Homo sapiens: one gene and its partners. The protein of the gene in region 2 interacts with the protein of the main gene of each other region in a pairwise test. Each region holds a gene or a part of one and is shown on either strand. Other genes may lie near its edges.

What was found. The genes of interacting proteins can lie anywhere in the genome.
Region 1: the proteins of RAB3IL1 (region 2) and FHL5 interact in binary tests that used the Homo sapiens proteins (3 or more experiments, as listed by UniProt).
Region 3: the proteins of RAB3IL1 (region 2) and CHCHD3 interact in a two-hybrid assay, tested with the Homo sapiens proteins (one large-scale study listed by IntAct).
Region 4: the proteins of RAB3IL1 (region 2) and RAB11A interact in a two-hybrid assay, tested with the Homo sapiens proteins (2 studies listed by BioGRID and IntAct).

What each region holds. Positions count from the first base shown.
Region 1 is NC_000006.12:96,566,128-96,569,627, reverse strand, and holds part of FHL5 (four and a half LIM domains protein 5), read right to left. Parts: intron 1-3,500. UniProt on the Homo sapiens protein: May be involved in the regulation of spermatogenesis. Stimulates CREM transcriptional activity in a phosphorylation-independent manner.
Region 2 is NC_000011.10:61,899,732-61,905,394, reverse strand, and holds part of RAB3IL1 (guanine nucleotide exchange factor for Rab-3A), read left to right. Parts: intron 1-512; coding exon 513-641; intron 642-736; coding exon 737-849; intron 850-2,853; coding exon 2,854-2,953; intron 2,954-5,663. UniProt on the Homo sapiens protein: Guanine nucleotide exchange factor (GEF) which may activate RAB3A, a GTPase that regulates synaptic vesicle exocytosis. Promotes the exchange of GDP to GTP, converting inactive GDP-bound Rab proteins into their active GTP-bound form.
Region 3 is NC_000007.14:133,075,591-133,079,090, reverse strand, and holds part of CHCHD3 (MICOS complex subunit MIC19), read left to right. Parts: intron 1-3,500. UniProt on the Homo sapiens protein: Component of the MICOS complex, a large protein complex of the mitochondrial inner membrane that plays crucial roles in the maintenance of crista junctions, inner membrane architecture, and formation of contact sites to the outer membrane.
Region 4 is NC_000015.10:65,889,490-65,892,489, forward strand, and holds the end of RAB11A (ras-related protein Rab-11A), read left to right. Parts: 3' UTR 1-2,500; downstream 2,501-3,000. UniProt on the Homo sapiens protein: The small GTPases Rab are key regulators of intracellular membrane trafficking, from the formation of transport vesicles to their fusion with membranes.

The DNA.
Region 1 (3,500 bases), on a different chromosome or scaffold from region 2:
AAACATACACACATCCAATACCACAACATCCAGATTTATAAAGCAAATAATTAAACCCAAAGGAGAAATAGATTTCAGTACAATTATAGCTGGGGACTTCAACACCCCTCAGCATTGGACAGATCATTCAGGCAGAAAATTAACAAAGAAACATTTAATTTAAACTGCACTTTAGACCAAATGAACCTACCAGACATTTACAGAACATTTCATTCAACAGCTGCAAAATACATATTCTTTTCATTAGAAAATGAAACATTCTTTAGCATAGACCACGTTAGACCACAAAACAAATCTTAACAAATTTAATAGAAATCATATCAATTTTTGACCACAATATAATAAAACTAGAAATCAAAATAACGAGGAACTTTAAAAATTGTACAAATACATAGAAATTATACAACATGTTCCTGAATAACAAATTAGTCAATGAAGAAATTAAGAGGAAGATTTTAAAATATCTTCAAACAAATGAAAATAGAAACACAAAATACCAAAACATCTGGGGTATAGCAAAAGCAGTATTAGAAGGTAAGTGTGCAGCAACAAACACCTATATCAAAAAAGTAGAAAGATATCAAATAAACAAGCTCATGATGCACTTCAAGAAACTAGAAAAGCAGAGTAAACCAAGCCCAAAATTAGAAGGAAAGAAAGAAAAGCATACATAAATAAAATTAAGACTAAAAAATACAAAATATCAACAAAATGGAAAGCTGAATTTTTTTGAAAAGATAAACAAAATCAACATTCCATTGGCTTGACTACCCAAGAAAAACGTAAAGGTCCCAATAAAATCAGGAATGAAAAGGAGACATTACAACTAATACCATAGAAATACAAAAAATTATCAGAGACTATTATAAACAGCTATATACCAAAAACTTTAGAAGACCTGACAGAAATAGGTAAATTCCTGGACACAAACAATCTATCAGAAGTGAACCAACAAGAAAGAGAACACCTGAACAGACCAATTACAAGTAATGGCATTAAGTCTGTAATAAAAAGTCTCTTATCAAAAAGAAGCTCAGAATATGACAGCTTCACTCTGGAATTCTACCAAAGATTTATAGAAGAACTAATACAAATTCTCCTCAAATTCTTCCAGAAATTGAAGATAAGGGAATTCTTTAAAACTCATTCTATGAGGCCAGTGTTACCTTGATACCAAAACTAGTCAAGGATGCAACAACAAAAAAAGAAAACTATAAGCCAATGAACATGATGAGCATAGATGCAAAAATCCTCAACAAAATACTTGTGAACCAATCTGGCAGCACATTAAAGAGATTATTCACCATGTAGGTAAGATTTACCTCAGGGATGTAATATACAAATGAATAAATGTGATACATTACATCAACAAAATGAAGGGCAAAAACAATTTGATCATCTCAAGAGATAGAGAAAATGTATTTGAGAAAAATTCAACATCCCCTCATGATAAAAATTCTCAACAAGTTAGGTATAGAAGGAATGTACTTCCACATAATTAAAGCCATGTATGACAAACCCACAGCCAATATCACACTGAATGGAGAAAAGTTTAAAGCTTTTCTTCTAAGATTTGGAAGACAATCATCTCACTTTTATTCAAAAGAGTACTGGAAGCCCTAGGCAGAGCACTTAGGCTAGAGAAAGAGATAAGGAGCATCTAAATTGAAAAGGAGGTCAAATTGTCCTCATTTGCAAATAACAAGAGCTTCTATATAGAAAATCATAAAAGCTCCACCAAAAATCTCAGAACTGATAAACAGATTCAGTAAAGTTGGAGGATACAAAAAAAAAAAAAAAAAGAATACAAAAACCAGTAGCTTTTCTATACACCAAAAACAAACTAGTGGAAAAAAAATCAAGAAACAAATTGCATTTATAATAGCTACAAAAAAAGCCATGTAGGAATATATTTAACCAAGGAGGTGAAAGATCTCTACAATAAAAACTGCAAAACACTGATAAAAAAAATTGAAGAAGACACAAAAAATGGAAAGATATCTCATGTTCATGAATTGTAGACATTAATATTGTAAAAATTAATACAATACTACTAAAAGTGATCTACCAATTCAATGCAATGTTATCAAAATACCAGTGATGTTCTTCACAGAAACAGAAAAAAACTCCTACAATTTATATGAAACCACAAAAGACCCTGAATAGCCAAAGCAATCCTGAGCAAAATGAACAAAGCCGGAGAAATCACATTTTGAACTTCAAAATATATTTCAAAACTATAGTAACCCGGATAGCATGATATTGGCATATGAATAGAGACATAGAACAATGGAGCATAATAGAGAACCCAGAAATAAATTCACATATTTACAGCCAAATGATTTTCAACAAAGCTGCCAAGAACATTTAATGGGGAAGGAACAGTCTCTTTGAAAAATGATGCTGGGAAAACTGAATATTCATATGCAGAAAAATGAAACTGTATTTCTACCTCACATAACATGTAAAAATCAACTCAAAATGGATTAAAAACTTAAATATAAGACCTGAATCTATGAAGCAACTAGAAGCAAACATAGGGGAAATACTTCAGGGTATTGGTGTGAGCAAAAATTTCATGGATAAGACCTCAATAGCACAGACAACCAAAGCAAAAATAGACAAATGAAATTATGTCAAACTAAAAAGCTTCTGCGCAGCAAAGGAAACAGTCAACAGAGAAAAAAGACAACCTGCAGGACAGGAGAAAGTATTTGCAAACTATTCATCTGACAAGAGTTTAATATTCATAATATAAAATGAGCTCAATAGCAAATAAAAAATCACATTAGAAAGCAGACAAATAAGCTGAATAGACATCTCTCTAAAGAAGACATACAAATGGCCAACAGGTAGGTACAAAAAATGGTCAATGTCATTAATCATCAGGGTAATGCAAATCAAAACCGCAAGAAGATATAATCTCACCCCAGTTAGAATGGCTATTACCAAGGAGACAAAAAAAAAATGCTGACAAGGATTTGGTGAAACACAAACTCTTATATGTTATTTGGAATATATGCATATATATGCCCATTATGGAAAACAGTTTGAAGGTTCCTCAAAAAATTAAAAATAGAACTACCGTATGATCCAACAATCCCACTACTGGGTATATATCCAAAGGAAAGGAAATCAGTATGTTAAAGAGATATCTGTATTCCCATGTTTATTGCAGCACTACTCACAACACATAGCCAAGATATGAAATTACCTAAGTTTCCATCAATAGGCGAATGGATTAAAAAAAGTGCTATATATCCCAATGAAGTATTATTTAGTTGTAAAAAAGAACAAATTTCTGTCATTCACGGCAACATGAATGAGCTTGGAGGACATTATTTTAAGTGAAATAAGCTAGACACAGAAAGATAAATACTGCATGTCCTCATGAATATGAAGAAGCTAAAAAAGTCAATCTCATAGAAGGAGAGAGCAGAATAGTGCTTACTGGAAGCAGAAAAGGGTAGGGGGAAGAAAGAGATAGCCAAAGGTAGGTT
Region 2 (5,663 bases):
AGGTAAATGGCTCCAAAGAGGGGCCTCCCACTTTGCCCCCTCCCAGCCTCCCTCATTCTGCATGTGGCCTGGAGCAGGCCAGCAGTCACCTCTGAGGTGTGGGCCCAGGGCAGCCTGTGTGTGTCCCCTCCTGTGTGCACGTGCTTGTGTGTGCTTGTGTACCTGCTGGTACCTGTGGCCTCCTGCTAGTTGCTCTTTGACTTTTCCTCCTCAAGGAGGCACTGAGGGTCTTCAGGACAAAGCCCTGCACCCCACTCTAAAATCCAGTAGCGCCAAGAAATTTAACACCGGCCTGGAAACAAAACTTTTAGTTCTAAATTCTTTGGTGCAAAGGGCAGAAGGGAGCTCTGCTGCTGCTGGACTTGGCTTCCCTGCACGGCTGCTGGGGATCGACCTGCTGGCTTGCTGGGCCTGCCCCACGTCCTCCCTCGCTCCCCTTCAGCTCAGCCTGCATCTTCTATGCTGGCCCCAGTACCCTGACCGCCCCCACCCTCGCTTGCCCTCCCCCACAGGTGGACACAATCCTGTTTGCAGAGTTCCAGGCCTGGAGGGAATCCCCCACCCTGGACAAGACCTGCCCCTTCCTGGAAAGGGTGTACCGAGAGGACGTGGGCCCCTGCCTGGACTTCACAATGCAGGAGGTGAGGCATGGCAGGGGCGGGGCCAGCTGGGGGACACACCCCTCCGCCAGGGCCCAGCCCCTTACCACCCTGCCTGCCTCCCTGGTCTGCCACAGCTCTCGGTGCTGGTACGGGCCGCCGTGGAGGACAACACGCTCACCATTGAGCCGGTGGCTTCGCAGACGCTGCCCACAGTGAAGGTGGCCGAGGTTGACTGTAGCAGCACCAAGTAAGCTGAGGGTCTTAGCTCCTTCCTGCCCATGTGGGAAAGCCCCGCCAAGCCGTGTGTTTACTGTGCCGAGGGGTGGTCAGGATGCAGCAGCGCCGACAGGACAGGGACAGTTGCTGCCCCCACAGGGCAAGGAGGCAGTTTGGCAGGTTTCCTGTGGACCCCCAGGCTTTCCAGAGAGGCCGGGAGCTAGGGTCTGCCTCTTCCTGACTGGTCTGCTCTGTGCCCTCCCCTTCTTTTCTTGAACCATGATTATCAGTTGCTGGCTGTGCCCCTGCCAATAAATAACGACGCAGTAGCCCTGGCATTTGTCCTCCAGCTACTCACCTGGCATTGAGCAGGGGAGCAGCAGAACAAAATAGCCAGGGTGGAGCAAGGGGCAGAAATTGGGGAGGATTTCACCTTGGCAGCCAAGAGCCTGGCTGGGGATGGCTGGTGCCCTGGTGGGAGGCTCATCACGGAGAGGGAGCATTTGAGCCAGGTTTTGAAGGATGAATAGAAGTTTGCCAAGCAGGGAAGGGCATTTCAGGCAGAGGGAACGGAATGTGCAAAGGTGTGAGAAGCTGGAGTATTAACGGAAGCACCACTGGGGCATCTGGCTAAGCAGTGGGGGGACAGGGAATTGGGGTGGAGGCTGCAGAGGCTGTTGGGGCCAGAGTATAAAGAGCCTTCACAGGTTTGGGCTTTAACCCACCAGCCAGTGCGGCAAAAGTCATCAATAGGCCGGGTGCAGTGGCTCACACCTGTAATCCCAGCACTCTGGGAGGTTGAGGCGGGTGGATCACTTGAGGTCAGGAGTTTGAGACCAACCTGGCCAACATGGAGAAAACCCCATCTCTACTAAAGATATAAAAGTTAGCCGGGTGTGGTGGCACACGCCTGTAATCTCAGCTGCTCGGGAGGCTGAGTCAGGAGAATTGCTTGAGCCTGGGAGACGGAGGTTGTGGTGAGCTGAGATTGCACCACTGCACTCCAGTCTGGGTGACAGAGTGAGACCCTGTCTCAAAAAAAAAAAAAAGTCATCAATAGCTGCCACCTGAAAAGAGGCTCTCTGGTCCATCAGAGAGTCCCAGTGAACCAGGAGGCAACAAATGCTCTGATAAGTCCGCAGCCAAGGAGCTTTTTAAACCTTCATTTATTTGGGATTCTCCCCATTTCTTGGGAATTAGGAAAGCAAGAGAGAAAGATGATGGGTTAGATGTGGGTTTTTGGAGGAGCCCTGGCTCTGATGTGGAGAAGAAAGAGAGCGATGAGGCAGAGAGCTGGCCAGAAGGAGCCAAGGGGATGCAGGCCAAAAGTACTGCTGCTGTGCCCTGGCCTGGGGACTTGGTGACCAAGCAGAGGGTGAGGAGGAGAGAGCCGAGCAGATGATGGCCAGTGAAGAGCAGGTTTGGGGAGTGGGGCCCAGATGGGGGTTGCTCAGGGCCTGTGGAGACCCTTCATGTGGGTGGCTGAAGATGCTGAGCGACGTCATGCAGGACTGGGGGGAGGAGAGAAGAGGGCATGGGAGAAGGCTCTTAGACGGGGTTGGTTGGCATGCGGCTGAGAACCATGGGGGTTAGTGGGGTCAGAAGGCCTGCATGGATGAAGCAGGGGAGCTGCTGGATGTTGGGAAGCGGGAGGCAGCCAGACCTCAACTCTGGCCTAGTTGGGGGAGGAGTGCCTGGTCTGAGTCCCCAGAAGTAGAGGGAGAGGCATATGCAGAGCCTGCAGAGGGTGGGACTTTGTACACCTGGCATGAGATTAACCAAGCTCTCTTGCCCAGTAGGGGCAAAACAAGGGTTCTAGGGGTACAGCTCAGCTTAGTTCGAGGTCTGTCCCAGGGATGGCTGGGGCCAGCTCCCTTCTCTGCCTGGCTCTGGGTTCCTTTGGAAGCCGGGTGGGGGAAGGGAGGCCTGCCCCTCCCCATGCATCCTCTCAGCTGCTGCATCTTCCCTGTATGCAGGGGTGAGGGAGAGGGGCAAGCCCCAGCCAGCCCCCGTGACCCATTTTGCTTTCCCCTAGCACATGTGCCCTGAGCGGGCTGACCCGCACCTGCCGCCACCGAATCCGGCTCGGGGACTCCAAAAGCCATTACTACATCTCGCCATCTTCCCGGGCCAGGGTGAGTCAGCCTTTGCAAGCGTTACTTGACTCCTTTGGGGCCACCTGGGTGCTGGGACACTGGGCCCTGGGCCTGGGAGTATGAATAGCACTACACCTTGATTTACTTATTTTATTTATTTATTTTTTGAGACAGAGTCTTTGTCACCCAGGCTGGAGTGCAGTGGCACAATCTCAGTTCACTGCAATGTCTGCCTCCCAGGCAGACATTAGCAATTCTCCTGCCTCAGCTTCCCAAGTAGCTGGGATTACAGGCATGTGCCACCACGCCCAGCTAATTTTGTATTTTTAGTAGAGATGGGGTTTCACCACGTTGGCCAGGCTGAACTCGAACTCCTGGCCTTAAGTGATCTGCCTGCCTCGGCCTCCCAAAGTGCTGGGATTATAGGTGTGAGCCACCACGCCCAGCCTTACATCTTGATTTACAGAGCAGGGTACAGGCTCAGAGAGGCGCAGAGACTGACTCGGGCCACACAGCCAAGCCAAGGGCAGTGGTTTGCTATTACGGTGTAACAAATTACTATCAACCTGGTAGCTTAAAATAGCGCAGTTCCCCATGTTGGAGTCTAAGCACTACTTACTTACTGGATTCTCTGCTCAGGGACTTGCAAGGTCGCAGTAAGCTGTCAGCAGACTGTGTTCCTTTCTGGAAGTCAGGGTCCTCCTCAAAACTCACATTGTTGGCAGCATTCAGTTCCTTGTGTTTGAAGGACTGAGGCCCCTATTTTCTTGCTGGCTGCTGGCAAGGGGACACCCTCAGCTTCTAGAGGACACCCGCAGTCCCCTGCCACAGGGCCTTGTTGCACAGGGCAGCTGACTTCAGAGCCATCAGGAGGGCCACTCTCCAGTCGGCTGAGATGCAGCCTTATGTATGAAATGTCATGGGATGACATCGCCCCCCTCTGTCATTCAATGTCACCTAATCCAGGAGTGATGCTAGAGTTCCAGTTAGAGTGCGGGGCTCCTGACGCCCAGACTCAGGTGCTGGCCGAAGCTTTGGAAAAGGTTCAGCGGTGCGTCTGGTGCACCAGCCTTAAGTCGGCCGTGAGTGCCAAGGGGCCTCTAGGAATCCCAGCTCCCACCCTCCCCTGCCGAGTGACCCAGACCAGGACAGGGGTTCTCACCAAGCTGGGGATTGAGGACAGGGATTCCTCTTCCTCTGTCCCTCTGTTGACTCTTAAGAGGATTGAGGGGAACAAGAGAACATGTTTGGAAACACGTTTCCAGTGACACAGCTTGAGGAACCATCTCAGGCCTGCTAGAGGCTCCTCGCAGGGGAGCAGGTCTAAAGGGGACAAATGGTCCCTTTGCTGGCAGCAGACTATACTGTCCTTGATGAACTCCACAAGGCATCCGAGCGTGAGTCCTCCCAGCGGTGTGCTGAGCACCCATTTACCAAAAGGGAGGCTGAGCCTTGGCAGAGGAAAGGGGTGTGTTCAGGGCCACACACCGAGACCTGGGATCCTGGCTCTGAGTCCACTGCAGCCCCTACCCTGTGGATTTGTGCCCACTGAGCCTTGTTCAGTGGCCACTTATCTCCATCACCGCTTTCCAGGCCCAACCATGGCTCAACAGCAGGCCCCACAAAAGATGTTCCCGTGCTCAACAATGTCACCTCTAGCACTTTAAGTCCCTGGCCTGGGTGTCCTGCTGCACTGGATGAAGCTGGGGGTGGGAGATGAGGTGAGGAGGGTCTGAAGTTTTAGGATGTGGTCCCTGCCCTGAAAGACCAAGACATGTGGGGTCCACAGGGAGAAGTGTTTTCTCCCTAGCACACTCCCTGGAGAGGGAAAGCCCCCTCCCTGCTACTCCCTGCTCATGAGCCTCTGTGGGCATCCACTGTCCCTGCTCCTGTCCTGAGCTCTGCCCTGCCCCACCCTCCTGCCGCAGCCTCTCCTCAACCCTCCCTGTGCAGCGGTGTCCCTGCCACGACGGGCTGGTCCCCCGACCTCGCCCCGCTCTCTCGCACCTCCCTATCTTTGCCAGGCCACCACCGTCCCGCCCCTCCCCGAAGCTTCTCCACTCCCCAGCCTGCGGGTGCCCCTCTCACTTGATGTCCCTCCCCAGGAGTGTTGGACATTCAGTAGGGGCTGTTGCGGGCGGGCACAGCCGCCGGCTACCTTCCACCCTGTCTTAGGCTGGGTTCCGAAGAGGCAGAGCCTCACCTGGAGATTGTGTGCAGCTCCCAGGAGAATGAGGGAAGGGACGGGGGAGTCCAGCCAGGATGTGGCCTTAGCTACAGCCCAGCTTCAGCCCCATCCACCGGGCTCTTAGCAGAGTTGATTCCACCCTGAGGCAAGGGGACTGTCCTTTCTATCTCCACACAAGTCAGTCATCGGCTGAGGTCTACAGGAGGAGTGAGTACAGAGGGGGGCACCTCTGAGCCATTAGTGCCCCCACTCTCAGCAGCTGGGAGATGGGGCCCGGGCCTGGGAAGGGGCCCTGGGCCAGGCACCAACAGTACCCTCTCCGTGGTGTGAGTCCTCATAGCAGTGTCTGAGCCAACACAGGGTCCCCGGGGCCTGGCATGGAGCAGGCCTGAGGCCCCAGGGGCCCCGGGCAGCCCAGGTGAGCGGCTTCTGACCCCCTTTCCTTTCCCAGTGTTATCAGTAGCACTGGACTGAGGCCTGGCTGGCCCAAAACTCCAGCATCTGGAGCAAGCCGGCCTGTGAGAGGGCGAGTGTAGACTCCGGGACAGCCTGCCCGGTTCA
Region 3 (3,500 bases), on a different chromosome or scaffold from region 2:
AGGGTGTTTTTTTGTCTAGGTCTGTTGTAGATGGTTTTTATTTCTTTATATTTTTCTTGGCTTTAAATAGTCACTTTGTTCCCTTCTGAGACATGGGGAAGGATAAGAAACCGCATTCTCAGTATGTCCATAAGCCATTGTTTTTAGCTTAGTTTGTTAGAACATGGTGCCGATGAGGCACCAAACTTCAGTTTTGAACTGCAGTTAGGTTAGTTCAGCTTGGCTGAAGAAAACGTTCCAACTTTGACCAGTTGTCTAGCATTTATGTCATTGGTTGTAAGAAATGAAAGTTTACCAAGCTTACTAATTCAACAGAGGCAGTCACTGCTGGAAAGCTAATTCTGTGTTCTGTTACACTGTTAAAGATAGTACAGACGGTCTCCTGTTAGGATGGTTCGACTTAGGATTTTTTGACAGTGGTGTGGAAGTGACAAGCGTTCAGTAAACTCAGCTTCTGGCATTACCTTCAGCAAAATCCGTTGTAAACCAAGGAGCATCTATAATTTCATCTTCCTTTATTTTTTTCATATAATGACTTGGGTTCATTCCCTTAATATAAATATGTTGGCAATTATGAGGTTTTTTTGAGTTGGAGTCTCCCTGTGTTGCCCAAGCTGGTCTCAACTCCTGGGCTCAAGCTATCCTCCTGCCCCAGCCTCTGGGACTACGGGCATGTGCCGCTCCACCAGGCTCAGTCATCATTTATCTTAATGTATAAAGAATAACATTTAGTGAACAACATAAGGCTTTTGGTAACTATGCTGAATATTTATTTATTTATTTGAGACGAGTCTTGCTCTGTCACCCAGGCTGGAGGGCAGTGGCATGATCTCAGCTTGCTGCAACCTCTGCCTCCCAGGTTCAAGTGATTCTCCTGCTTCAGCCTCCTGAGTAGCCAGGATTATAGGCCTGTGCCACCATGCCCTGCTAACTTTTTTGTATGTTTAGTAGAGGGGGGTTTCACCATGTTGGCCAGGCTGGTCTCAAACTCCTGACCTCAAGTGATCTACCCACCTCAGCCTCCCAAAGTGCTGGGATTACAGGTGTGAGCCTCCACACCTGGCTGAATTTATTAATAGATTGTGTTTCTCTATATTGTTGAGGTCCTTAATAGCAATGAAAGGACCTACTTCAAATTTTAAGTTTAAAATTTCTTCTCACCTACCAGGTGTTATTTTTCATGGTATTGTAGGGTCTTGTTTTTTCCCTTTATCCTTAGCAACTGATAGCTTTTCTTCCCTCTTCTGTAAAAGTAACCTATATTTTTACACCTGATTCCAACTTTGAATCTGAAACTACTCTTATGGATTGGATGAGAGGTCACTCTTTTGCCTTGCCCTCTTCTCAAGGCTAAAATAAATTCCTAGAGAGGAAAGACCAAGCATTTTCATTACTCATATTACATGTGGTTGATAGGATTTTTGTGAGCACCTGCTGTGCCTGCTTGGAAAGTGTGCTTACAACTCTATCTTTCGCAAGTTTATCTGAAACATCAAAGCTGTGAGTGAACTCTTCTGGAGCAAATGTCAACTTCAATGAGTATCATTTTCAAAGATATATTTATCATGCTTTCCAGACATAAACGAATGTCCGCAGCTGGGCTTTAAAGTTGCAAGCTGAAATTCACAGGAGCCAGTTATGGCAGTATGGATACTTAATATGGAACGTAACTCATGCTTTGGGAAGTGTTGGCAGTTGAGAGACCGTAAATGAAGAGATTACTTAATATGCGGTATTACTGAGGATTCTGAAGAGAGTATGTTATCAGAGACTACAAATTCGGTCAGCCCTTGGGAGTGTTGAGGAATGTTGTGCAAATTTAGTTAAGTAGTGGATGATTAGTTTCTTTCAGCTTTAGATTCTATGAAGTTTTTGGCTACCATCTTAAGTTATCTAGGATTTTATAAAGGTAGGGATAATGGTTTCTACTAATGACAAATGTAAAGAAACACAGACATAAGCTAAGCATTACATATTTCATATATATCTATCAACATATATATGGGTTCCCTCTCCCCCTTTCTCTTAACTAACTATTTGGGAGTAATTTCTCCCAAATAATAATGGCAGTTTTTGGAGCCTATGTCTTAAAAAGGTAATTGTGAAGCAAACTAATACTCACACAGAAAATGACCTATGCTAAGTGGAAGGAGGATCAAGAGAGAAAAAATGGGTCTGAGTTCTTGAATCAATTTGCTAGGACACATCTGGAAGAAGATAAGATAAACTAATGGAGGCAGGAGGCTGATTTATTTGTCTCATGTGGCTCATAACTTTACCTCTTAGAAGGGCCACTGAAGAATTCCTCTTTTTTTACTCTGTTACCTGGGAGTAGAAATACTTTCTCTTTGTCCAACTCACCCAGTCTCCTGTTTCTGAGAAAATTCTTTCTTTTGGATTGGTGGGTAGTGTTTCTGGCACGGATTTTGGATAAGACCAAACAAGGTGGGTAGGAAGAGATGAGTGGGAAGACTGTAGGAGATGACACATGGCCTTTCCCCCTCTGTGGAGCACATTGGTGTGGTGAGTACCACAAATTTAAACTTGGCAAGCTCTGTTTGCTTAAATTTGTCTTTAGGAGCAATAGAGAATAGGGTGGACAGTCAAGTTCAGTGGGCTGAATATCGGCAGACCTGCTTCTTTTGATTGCCCCTTATATTAGAATGGTGGCTCTTTTAGTTCATAGAGCACTGTGGATCTGTAAGCTGTGGATTCTGGCCAGAACCATGCAATAAGCAGACAGTTTTGCATACAGTTGAGTAATTGACCCACGGACTACTCAGTCTGTGGACCTCAGGGTGTAATTCCCAGTATCAATGTGTGTGGGGATTATTTCACTATTCTTTGCTACAAATAATTTCTGTAAATTGCCCTTGGTATTTGCCTTGATGCAGATTCCAGAGATGTCTGGAAAGCAAGTATAATAGGTATAGGTCATTGTACAGGAAAAGGCTTTGCTTAAACAAGTGCCCGGTTCAGGAAAAGATATGTTTCCTGAAGAAGATACTTTTTTTTTTTTTTTTTTTTTTTTTGAGATAGAATCTCATTCTCTTGCCCATGCTGGAGTGCAGTGGTGCGATCTCGGCTCATTGCAACCTCCACCTTCTGGGTTCAAGCGATTTTCCTACTTCAGCTTCCCAAGTAGCTGGGACTACAGGCACCCACCACCATACCTGGCTAATTTTTTATATTTTTAGTAGAGATGGGGTTTCACCGTGTTAGCCAGGATGGCCTTGATCTTCTGACCTCATGATCTGCCTGCCTTGGCCTCCCAAAGTGCTGGGATTATAGGCGTGAGCCACCACACCTGACCGCAAGATACTTCTTACACAGAGGCTGCCATCGCAGAAGCTTGTGTTGTACTATCGACCCCCATTTTGGGTCATTTTTTATCAGAAAGATGAGTTGTTCTGCAGCTACAGATTGCGTGTATAATCCTGGCCAGCATCTCTAAAGCTTGTCAGCTGCTTCACGAGTGAGTACCCCTGTTCACAGAGGAG
Region 4 (3,000 bases), on a different chromosome or scaffold from region 2:
TGCTTTGGGTGCAGCCGTGGAATCCTGATGTAAAAGCATAGGTTCTTGCATTACTGAGTAAACATTGAATTGGGAGCATCAGTGTGTGAATTCAGCTTTGATTTTAGAACTGCAGTTCAATTATGCTTTCCTTGGAAAAAGTATGTCCAAAAACATTAGGAAAGTAGTGTGTATTTTCATATATAACAGTGTCACCAGACCCAGGAAAAGAAACCATCTCTATTTTATTGAAAGTTGGTGGTAGATTTTTTACAAAGTAAGGAGAAAAGAGAAAAACTAAATAGTGAATTGAAAATGAATAAAGTAAACTTAGAATTTTTACCCAAGTGTAGACTTAAATGTTGCTTTGAGTATGGCTGGATCTTGGGAGAATTCCAGGAAATATTAGGTATTAGAAAATGACTTTGATTGCATTTCAGCAGGTGTCTTTATTCTGAGTAGTATCTTAGGAGACAAACTGTCTCAAGCAAGAAACAATAAATTTTTAAATATTATGACAGTTCAGGGCTTAAGGCAGTTTAGAAGTATTTTGCTACTTGACCTTGATTTTCAGTTATTTTAACTTTGAATTTTTTTTTTTTTTTTTGAGACGGAGTCTTGCTCTGTTGCCCAGGCTGGAGTACAATGGCACCATCTCAGCTCACTGCAAGCTCCACCTCCAGGGTTCATGCCATTCTCCTGCCTCAGCCTCCCGAGTAGCTGGGATTATAGGCGCCAGCCACCACGACTGGCTAATTTTTTGTATTTTTAGTAGAGACGGGGTTTCACCATGTTAGCCAGGGTGGTCTCGATCTCCTGACCTGGTGATACACCCACCTCGGCCTCCCAAAGTGCTGGGATTAAAGGCGTGAGCCACCGTGCCTGGCCTTGAATTTTTTTTTAACCTGTTATATAGTCTCCTGAATAGTTAGCCATGGTGCCTTGATTTAATCTTATGTCATTGTTCTCAAATGCCATGATTTCTCTTTAATAGTAGTTGTCATTATGTAAGGGTAAGTTATTGCCCATTTAATTGTAATTATAAGAAGAGGTGCCAGCTAGTGACCTTACATCAGTGATCTTTTAAGTTCTGAAGGGTTCTGCAGAAAAGTTACACTTCTTGAGTTTGGGTTGCCCATCAGAGCTGGTCACATTTCTTTGATCATTGAAAAAATGAATATCTTAATTTTTGTCTTTGCTGACTGGTATTTATAAAATACAAATGCTTTTAGTGGGTTGAGCTGTTGTGATAATCTCTTCCATCTACCTTAGAGAAGAAGCTGTACTATTTAGACAGTTTTGGCCAACACTAGAAGCAAAAGAATTCAAAGGCTGGGTGGATATTTAAGAACTTATTCTAACCTGTCAGGTTTCAATTTGTGGGGCTTGGTTTAACAGAGGAAAAAAATATAAATTGATTTTCTGATGTCTCACAAATATCACATACCTGGAAAAAAATTAAAACAAAAAATGAATTTTGTAAAAGGTTATGTATGACTTCCATTTGCTCTGTAAAAAAATGAACAAAGATTGTGAAAGGATCCTCTTCCACCACATCATTTAATGGGTTAGCGGAACAGATAGGGAGCTATGACACTAGCACCAAAGAGAGATTTTTCTTCTGGTTGGGTGGTGCTGGTGCCACGCCCCTTTCTGGGATTTGACAAGTCTTTCCCACTCACCTATACAATATGCCAAATCAACTGGAGTTGTCATTCTAATGTTTTAAAGAATGATTGGGTTCCCCCAAACTGTAGGAGGTCGATGGTAACAATAAAGTGATACAAAATGCTTATGTCATTATAATTTATGTAAGGGAGACCATTAGGCTGAGAATCAATATGATTGAGGTTATCTATTCTCCTGAAAAGTGAATTGGAGAATAAAGAAAGAATATTTGAAAGGATGTTGTGTACTAGGCAATATACTAGCATGTATTAGAAAATACGGTAAACTGTGGGTTAGAAGAGTGAAAGTAGCTGGTATGATAGAGCACTGGACTGAGTAACGAAGAGATTCTAGTCATGGCTCTTGTGGTCATTTCATTTTTGAGCCTCACATTCTTCCAATTAATGAGGGTACCAGATTAAATAAACTCTGGGGATTCATCCCAATTCGAACTCTGTAATTCTCTGAATGAACTCTCTCTTCAATTAAAGCCAAATTATTAACATTTTAACTCAAGTTTAAATTTAATAGAGAAGTCAAAATGAGGTATGCACTTTGTGGAATGTTTTTGGTCTTATCACAATAACCTGATTAAAATGGTGCCTTTATTTCCATGTTTACTCCTTTAAATAAGATGAAAGCTTTCAGAACATTTATTTGCAAAATGACTGTCAATATCAACAATATGCATCAAAGTACCATATATGCTAAGGGAGAGGAGCACTTGATGGGCTGCTATGTTAACTGTAAATTGAGAACTGCTTGTTTTATGGCTTTTGCTGTTAAAAAAAAACTGCTGGCTTTTAATATGTACTTTAAAATATACTCATGTCTGGGAGAGAACTTTTAAAAACATTTTGTGTTTAATTTTTAAAAAATTATTTCTTTAATAGGAATCTACAAGAAGGTAGATCAGTCCACAGGCTAGCTATCCAGTAGAACCAGTGATTAAATCCAAGTGTACAGGTTTATGTGTGCATGTACATGATACACATGGTATTTTGGGGTTGTTGATCTAGTGATCTAATTATTAATAGTCAAAACATTATTTAAATTCAATTCTTTGACATTTATTAATTATAGGATAGTTCCTGACACGGGTGTGAGCACAAAATGTTATGTATATTGGCTAACTATGTTACCAGTACCAGTGATGGTAGTGAGAATTAGCAGCCAACAGGATTCCTTTACTATGTTTGAGTCAGTGGAACTTAACCTTGCTCCAAACCACAAAATCTCAGACCTTTTTAACTCTCATCCCAATGAATAATGTACTGTTTTTAGCACCTGTCCCCCTGTTGACAACCTCTAATCTCTCAGCATACCATTTTCTCAGGTATTTCTAGGGAAGTG